3 separate regions of the Homo sapiens genome follow, and all the other regions are linked to region 1. The links come from fine-mapping of genetic effects on gene expression. A gene starts in region 1. Each other region holds a variant in brackets. All regions are shown on one strand. Distances are between the middles of the regions.

The links.
Region 2: its variant is fine-mapped to the expression of BEND6 in coronary artery (GTEx, PIP 0.97).
Region 3: its variant is fine-mapped to the expression of BEND6 in kidney cortex (GTEx, PIP 0.94).

The regions. Positions count from the first base shown.
Region 1 is chr6:56,953,856-56,956,618 of GRCh38, forward strand. BEND6 (BEN domain containing 6) reads left to right here and starts at 1,252. Exons shown (of 7, transcript NM_152731.3): 1 at 1,252-1,605. DST (dystonin) reads right to left here and starts at 975. Exons shown (of 104, transcript NM_001374736.1): 1 at 552-975. The coding sequence starts at 732. RefSeq lists an enhancer at 1-589 and a silencer at 751-1,440.
Region 2 is chr6:56,475,675-56,478,437 of GRCh38, forward strand. DST (dystonin) reads right to left here. Exons shown (of 104, transcript NM_001374736.1): 91 at 1,671-1,814; 92 at 475-663. Among named protein-coding and RNA genes, the nearest start is that of COL21A1, 230 kb to the left of the region's middle. The variant C/T (reference allele first, on the strand shown) is at 1,664.
Region 3 is chr6:56,338,706-56,341,468 of GRCh38, forward strand. It overlaps a transcript of COL21A1 not described here. Among named protein-coding and RNA genes, the nearest start is that of COL21A1, 93 kb to the left of the region's middle. The variant T/C (reference allele first, on the strand shown) is at 1,651.

The sequences.
Region 1 (2,763 bases):
TCCTTGTTCTTCACCTACCGAGTGACTCATGACTTACCTGGGAGACCAGGGTTGGGAAAGCACATCGCAGACTCCTGGAATTCGGTGGGACATCCTGGGGGAGGGAGGAGGAGTCCTGGGGCCATCGGTCTCTACGTGATTTCTCCGCGAGAAGTTTGCATGAAAGTTCTGGGGGAGTTGGGGAGCCCCGAAGTTTCCATGCCTTACTTTCTTACCCCTACGCTCCAGCGAAGGATGCGTGAAGGCGAGGCTGGCGCAGCCCCGGACTACGCTCAAATTACCCTTAAGGCTTTAGCAAACTGACTAAAAATTTGAGTTCTTTCCTCCCCTCCCTGCCCTCGGCATCGCCGTGGTTATTCAAACCTGGGAGACTGGAGGGCGGAGGTGACGGCAAAAAGGGCAAGGGGCGTTAAAGAAACGCACTCAGCCTGGGGAGTGGGCAATGATGGGGCTAGGGGCAGCCGAGGAGAAGGGAGCGAGCCGCGCTTCACTCTCCAAATCGGCTTAATTGTTCCTGGTAGCCCGCAGAAACCCGTCGCGGCGTGTCTTACCTCGGCTTCTTGAACGACCCGAGAAGACCGATTTCATCGGATGCCTCCCTTTCTGGAGCTTGCGGTGCCAGCAGCAGAAGAAGACGATGGTGGCGATGGTGCCCAGCAGAAGCAACAAGAGGAAGAGGGCACATTGGATGCTGTAGGGTCTCAGCAAGACGAGGAAAGCCGCGGCGATCATGGTGCGGGCGAGGCGAGGGCGACTCGACGGCGGGGCTGGAGGGCGGCGGCACAGGCACCCGCGCTGGGCGCACGCCGGGACGGCGGGCACGGGTGAGCGCGGCTCAGCGCGTCATGCCTGGCGCTCGCGGCCCCGCGCCCAGCCCAATGGCTGCGCACCCCGCGCCAGCCGCGCTACGCGAGTGATCCAGGGCTGCGGGGAGCGCTTGCCATGACTCAGCAGACAGCGACGAGGCTGCGACTCGGCGGCTGGGATCCTCTCCCCTCCCTCCCCAGGCGCCCCCGCCCCCGTCCGTGCGCAGCCCCCGGGCGCAGCCCCGCCGGGGACGCGGCGAGTGGGGAGGAGCAGCGCCGCCGCCGCGGCCGCCCGGGCCCCGCGCATCGTCCTGCGGCCGCCGCCGACCTCAGCATCCCAGAAGCCGGGCGCACGTGGGTCGGGGCGGGGACGCGGCGCTCAGGCTGCAGCCGCGGCAGCCTGCGGGGGGCGGGAATGGGGCGCCGCGGCGGGGGCTCGGCTGATGACATCACGGCCAGGCTGCGGCAGCGCGGGCGCGCGGACATGGCTGCGGCGGTTTCGGCGGCGTCCGCGGGCTGCACCCGGGCCTGAGAGCCCAGCGCCCTCCCGCGGGGCCGCCCGCCAGTCCGCGCCGTCCGCGGGTGCATTGGCCGGGTGCCTCTAGCTTCCCGGACACCCGGAGCTTCCGCCTATCCAGCCTCCCTCGGCCAAATTGCTGCGGAGCCCGTCGTCAGGGGGCGCCAAGGAGCCAGGGGGAAAACCGAGAGGCGCTGACAGGAGCCTCCCGGCGGTGCTACCCTCCACCTCCCACCTCCCTGCGCCCCGCCCCGAGGTTGGGGCTTTGAAGAATGCAGCCGGGTGAGCTATTGCTTGTGGGGGTTTCCTCGCACTCTGAAGCGCGAGCGCCGGGAAGGGCCTTCCCTGGGAATTGGGATACTCCAGGAACGGGAGGCCCACTCCTCTCCAAGCCTCTCTAAACTAGGAGCGCTCCGGGGTAGTACGCTCTGGTCGGCAGAGGTGAACTCTTCCACCCCAAACTTGGTGCTTATCTCGCAGCTAAGAATTGGGCACTTTCGATCTTCTTGTATCCCTGGGTTTGCCCTAAAACCCTGACTCATTTAGTGCATTTGAAGGGCAAGGCGATTTCAGATTTAGGGACCTGGCAGATGAAGTAAGTTGGTACTTGGCTTATAAACATTTGGGGGAGAAATTTTTTAGGGAGTGTGAGGCAATAGTGATCTCTCACACTTGCAGGCACACTCTGTCTCCCCTTTGTCCCCTCCCCACGTTTCTTCATAACCAGCAAAAAGTATATGGCAGTTGGTGGCCAGGGGATTTAACACTGATGCAATGCCAGCACGGAAGGTATAGCGAGAGCGCTGCAGTGTGCCTTTCTGCGGACGGCCACGGCCACCTGGCCAGGAAGCGGCTGCTGCAGCAGTCATTCTGCGGCATCTTGCGGCCTTGGCGGGCGGTGCTGTGCCGCGTTCTGCTGCCCCCAAGGCAATGCTGGCTTTCCCTGTGTGGGGCTGGATTGTTTGTTTCATTTACTCGCATAAGAAAACTTTAATTATAGTGACAAGGTAACACTTGACTGCATTTGCGGAGTTTCTTATAACAACTGTATTAGCCTCTTTTTTGGAATATTTAATAGACTGAAGAAATTGTGTCATAAAAATTTATAAAAATTTGAAAAGCAGGTAAATAATTGGGAGGAATAAAAGTTTTATTTGCTTGTAGTGATCTCAAAATCAGTGTTGTTTTCCAACTATACAAAACCGTACAGCTCTGCATGAAAGCTTAATCATTGATGTCCTTAAAGCCAGTAACATATTACCGTGTGTAAGTATTAAACCTAAAAAGGCATTGGTTAATGCAGTCTCTTAGTGCCAGATTCATAAGCATGGAAAACAACAGATACGTTTTGTTTACAGCTGGTTTCCTTAAACAAAATAAACATTCGAATTGTTGACATGTTGCATCTCATTCATTCAGTTGTTTTGGATTGAACTCAGA
Region 2 (2,763 bases), 480 kb before region 1:
GCAGAGCAATCAAACCTTGTTTGATTAATGCAATGTGAACATAATGCATCCACATTTAATGTGGATACCTTAATGTGGGTACCTTGTACCCACTGAAGCCAGGGAGGTGGAGGTGGGTGAGATCACCAAAAGAGGGAACAGAGTGAGAGAAATAGAGAGCTGAGGATAACACCTAAGGAGTAAGGAGAGCTGACATTTAGAAGGCAAAAGGGAGGGCAGGAGTGAACGTGAGACAATACCACGAGTGTAACCCCACAGAGGACAAAGAAGGAAAGTTTTGCAAAGGTCACAGAGGGTTCCTGTAAAGAGAGGTTTTAGGGCAGTTGCAGAGTTGGAAACACAGTTGTAAGGAGCTGAGGAGTCTGAAGAAGTGAAAATAACGAGAACAAAGCAATGTTTTGAGAAGTACAGCAGTGAAAGAAAGAAAATATCTGAGATAATGGTTAACAGGAGTTAGGATTATATTTATTTTACCTGGTGTTCTGCAATGAGTGCTTTCACCTCTTCGATCTCCTGGGGGATGACTTCTTTATCCTTATCAGTAAGTGTAGTTTCAGCCCATTGCAACCAAGCCAGCAAAGCTTCCAACAATTCCTGTTTGGCAATAAGCCCAGCCAGAGCACTTGCTAATCTCTGCTGATGTTGCTTTGCCCAGGCCAGCACCTGTCAGAGAAACAGAAATTTCTCTGAATTTCCTCCAACTTAGTAAAATAATTGCAGTGATGTAAAATAAATAAATTTTAAATGAAAATTAGGATCATCCTGAGCTAGACCCATAATGCTTCTGGTCTTTTTAGATTCCATTAGTGGCATCAAGATCTGGCTTGAGGAGGACATGAGAGCCCACGATGATGTTCATCATCTTCAGAATTTAAAGATGCATGTCAATCACTCAGGCTTCCTTTTGCTTTCTAATTTGAGTTCAAATATGCATTCTCTGAAGGATCAGGTAAGCTTACTCCATGTGGCACAGAGTAGAAATGTAAAAAGCTAAGATACTGGCAGGGCGTGGTGGCTCACGCCTGTAATCCCAGCACTTTGGGAGGCCGAGGTGGGCGGATCACGAGGTCAGTTCAAGATCAGCCTGACCAACCTGGTGAAACCATCTCTACTAAAAATACAAAAAAATTAGCTGGGCATGGTGGCACGCGCCTGTAATCCCAGCTACTCGGGAGGCTGAGGCAGAGGAACTGCTTGAACCTAGGAGGCAGAGGTTGCAGTGAGCCGAGATCCAGCTACTGCACTCCAGCCTGGGCAATAAATCGAGACTCCGTCAAAAGAAAGAAAAAAAAAAGCTAAGATATTAAATACAGAATTAATTCACTTTATGTATACCAATTCACTCCACCAGTATATACTGCTCCGAAACACCATCCAACTGCTGGATTATTCAACAGAAACAATGTGGAAGGAGGCCAAAATGTTATACAGTGTACTAAATATTTGCCTTCTAATTTTCCAGGGACATAGCTGCAAAATTTCTTTGAGCTTTTAAAGAAAAGTGAATTGCAGAGATTGTAATGCATACAAGAAGCGTATTTAAAAGAACGTTTTCTATGTAGAGGTCTCATTTTCCCATGGCCATAAGTGCATCTTAATTCCTGAAATTTCCCACACCCCTCAACTCTCAAAGCTATTGCTACTCTGAAGATTATCTGAGACA[C/T]ACTGACCTCCTCAAACCTCGCCCGGATGATTGTTATCCAGTGCTTAATGGTAGTGATGGAGTCGGGGTGGCAGATAGCCAAAACGGTGTCGCCCATAGTGGTGGCTTTATTTAGTTCAGCTCTCTTTTCTTCCAGTTTCTTCATGAATTCCTACAGCAGAAACAAAGACTTCAATTAACTGTTGGCATTGGCTGAAAACAAAACTCTGGTGGCATTTGTTTGACTGCCAGAATTAAACAAATAAACAAAAACTTCAATTGGTTTATTCACAGTGAAAATCATCTACTAATTGGGGAGGAAAAGGGGACAAAATAGAAAACAAAGTACTTTCTAACATGTACTTCAAAATACAAGTACAGTCATCCCTTGGAATCCAAGGGGAGTTGGTTCCAGGATACCGTGCATAATAAAATCCAATGATGCTCAAGTCCCTGATATAAAATGATGTAGTATTTGCATATGACCTAAGTACATCCTCCCCATATGCTTCATATCATCTCTAGATTACTAATAATACCTAATACAATGTAAATTGTTGTAAATAGTTGTTATACTGTATTGTTTAGGTAATAATGACAAGGAAAAAAGTATGTATATCTTCAGTACAGATGCAACCATCCATTTTATTTTTGAATATTTTTAACCATTTTATTTTTGAATATCTGGATACAGAGGGCCAACTTTATAGGATATTTCATGCTTCAAAAACTGTATTATACAAAAAAATAACTCTCCCAAATTTAGATATAATTATGTTATTAATGGAGAATAGCATTGGGAGAGACAGTATTGCTAGAGATAGAAACAATACTGATTGACCAAAAATAAGTTCTAACAAATAAGGTAAGGAGGTTAATATTTAAAATAGCATTAACTATGCCAGGAAATATGGCAGCATGAATAAAAAAGTACAAAGTAGAGAGAAGCCTGGGTAAGGAAAGATAAATGTTTGGGGGTATGGGAGAGAGGGCCCAAAGTGTCTATGCAGTAAAAAGTGAAGGGGAGGTTGGAAGAGTGAGCCTGACAGCAGGTCAGCCCATGTGAGAACTGTCCCTTTAAAATGCCAGTAAGAGCCACTCTCCTCTGTTCTGGCAGTTCT
Region 3 (2,763 bases), 620 kb before region 1:
TAATAACTTTAAGAGATTCTCTTGGAGCCTCTGCTTGTCTGTGGGAGAAGACACATTCACAGGAAGGGAGAAAGTAATGGCTCACTATAAATACTGGATTCTCAACTCCTCTCTTGAATGAGTCCCTGGATCTTCTTGTCTCCTGCTTATATAGACTTCTGGGGAGAAAGGTGGTCCCATGATGGTTGGGGTGGCAGAAGCAGCTCACATGCTTCTTTATGATCCCTAAAAAGACTGCTTAGCAGATCTCTTTTTGTAACTATCTTTATAAAAGGGAGTATTTCTTGTCTCTAGTAGCCATTTCCCAAGCCAATAGGAACTACTCTGTAGCATGTATGAAGCATAGCATATTACATATTAGCCATCATCATCATCCTCTCAGATGGAAACTGGACTTAGAAAAGCTGCATCACTTCCCCCCAGGAACCACAGTTATCAAGTGGCAGAGGTGTGAATGGAACCCAGACCTGGCTCCAAAGCCTTCTTCCTTCATCAGGTTGCTTTACCTGCAGGCTATGGGAGCCTGTTTGGTGGTCAGAGGGACTTGTTTTTAGTTCACAGGCTGGTTTCCTAAAATTAGTAAAGGTTTATTAGATGGCAACGTCTATGTTTTATTATCCAACATAAATTTTATTACTGCGTTTAATAAAAACCTCCTACAGTGTCTGAAAGTAGTACTACCCTTATTATTTTGCTAGTGGTCTTTCAGAATTATTTTGTAGTTGTGGTTCTTGTTGGTATAATGAGGATTCATGTGGTTTTCCACCCCTGAAATAGTCTTAAAAACAAAAGAGTTTTGAATTACTGATCTAGAATATGAATTTATGTTGTTGATAGTCAATATTACCAAATCTTTGGTTTTCTCTCTGTTAGTGAAGGAAAAACTCCGGGTAGCACACACTTCATTAAAGCGACTCAGTTCACTTTTGAAAGCCACATTCTTTTGAACTTTATAGTAGATTTCCAGACATTTATATTCACCAGTGTTTAGTTAAAGTGAGAACTAAAGCTTGTGCAGACACCATGAGTGGAATCTAAACCAGCTTTGGCTACTTCCAGAATCATAAGAAAAATATTTCCCTTTAACTCAACTGAAAGTATACCTTCCACATCTGGTTTTGTCATCATTCTTTAATGTTTTCTGTATAATGGATAAGTTTATAGGGAGAATACCGGAAAAAATATATAAATGCAAGCAGCTAGTCACAAATGAAAAACCTCCAAAAGATAATATGATGCAGTCAATATCACACTTTTGGAAAAAATGGGATTACTTGTGCCAGTAGTTTGGACATCTAAGTCAGGATTGGAGAGGCTCAATATCCTAGCACTGGATAATACCCCAGAGAGGAAAAAAAACGCCATCTCAGAACCGTACATGCCAAACACATCTTAATTAAAAATATTTTTCTTTAGAGATACATTGTTTTTCCTCTCTTATTTGATCTAGATTTATTTTTCCTGAGCCCCACCTCACCCCTCCCGCTTCAGTGGCCTGTTCATCAGTCACCTGGGAGCAATTCTGGGTTTCCTCCATTCCATTCTCAGCACAAGGCTGTGGTCTTTCTCCTTGAGGACTACAGAGATCATGGGACTGAAATGAGCTATCAATCCATGAAAAGACATGGAGGAAACTTGAAGGAGAAGTTG[T/C]GGTGGGGCAGGGACTTGGGGCAAGGCACACAGGGAGGAGGAGACAAAACAGATACAGAGGTTGGAGAGGGAGACTTTGTGCCCTGCCACAAAGTCATACAGCTGGGGAAGGACAGCAGCTTTTCAAGGCCAAGTTTAATGCTTTCACCACTTCTCCTGGTTGATGGGGAGAGGAGGACCAGCTAGGTCTAAGGACTAGTGGAATATTTCATATATAATTATTTGAAGACACTTATTTGATCAGTTTCCCACTAGACCTTTAAATTCAGAGATTCTCTGTTGGCTGTGTTTATTTTCAAGTAGCAATTTGGCTTTCCCTAGTGTTAATACCTTACTGAACACCTTCCTAACAATGAACGACGTTTTCCAATATTTTTCTCACACTGGAGTCATTTGAAAATCATGATAAATTAGTTAATATCCACAAGTGATTTTAGATTGGGTTGGATTCCAGTCTAAAATTACCTGCATATTTTTCCATGAGGAGTTGTTAGCTCATGGAGCAAGTAATCTATGTTCTCTGTCAGCCCAAGGTGTCAGCAAGTGGAAAGAAATCAGACCCCTTTGTTGATTGAACACACAAAATCAGCATTCATGTCTCCTTATGCCTACAGTACTAGGGGCTCTAGGCACTTTCATGGGTGTGTGAAACATACTTCCAGGACATGATAGAGTCATAACGTTTGTGGTCTGTGCAATGGTCACCACTTCAAAACTCATCTCCAAGGAGCTACATTGCTCTATTTACAGACAGGAAGCTGGATCCCAATATTAGACTTCCATGCTCCAGAAGAGAAGAGAGAATACATTTGGAAATAAGAAATTTAAAACTGAATGAAAGAAAAGAATATCGGTATATAAGGAAAATTATGATAATACATTTGTGGGAAACAGAAAATCCAAGAAATTTTTCTCAGCACATTTGAAAATTTTGATAAGGTATGATGGAATTTATTTTCAGATAATGTCAATAAACTCCATTATTCAAGGATGGAATAATAATTACATTTGTTGTGGTAAATCCATACAATGGAATATTATGCATTGATAAAAAGAAATGAACTGCCAAGCCATGAAAAGACATGGAGGAAACATAAATGAAAGTAAAGAAGC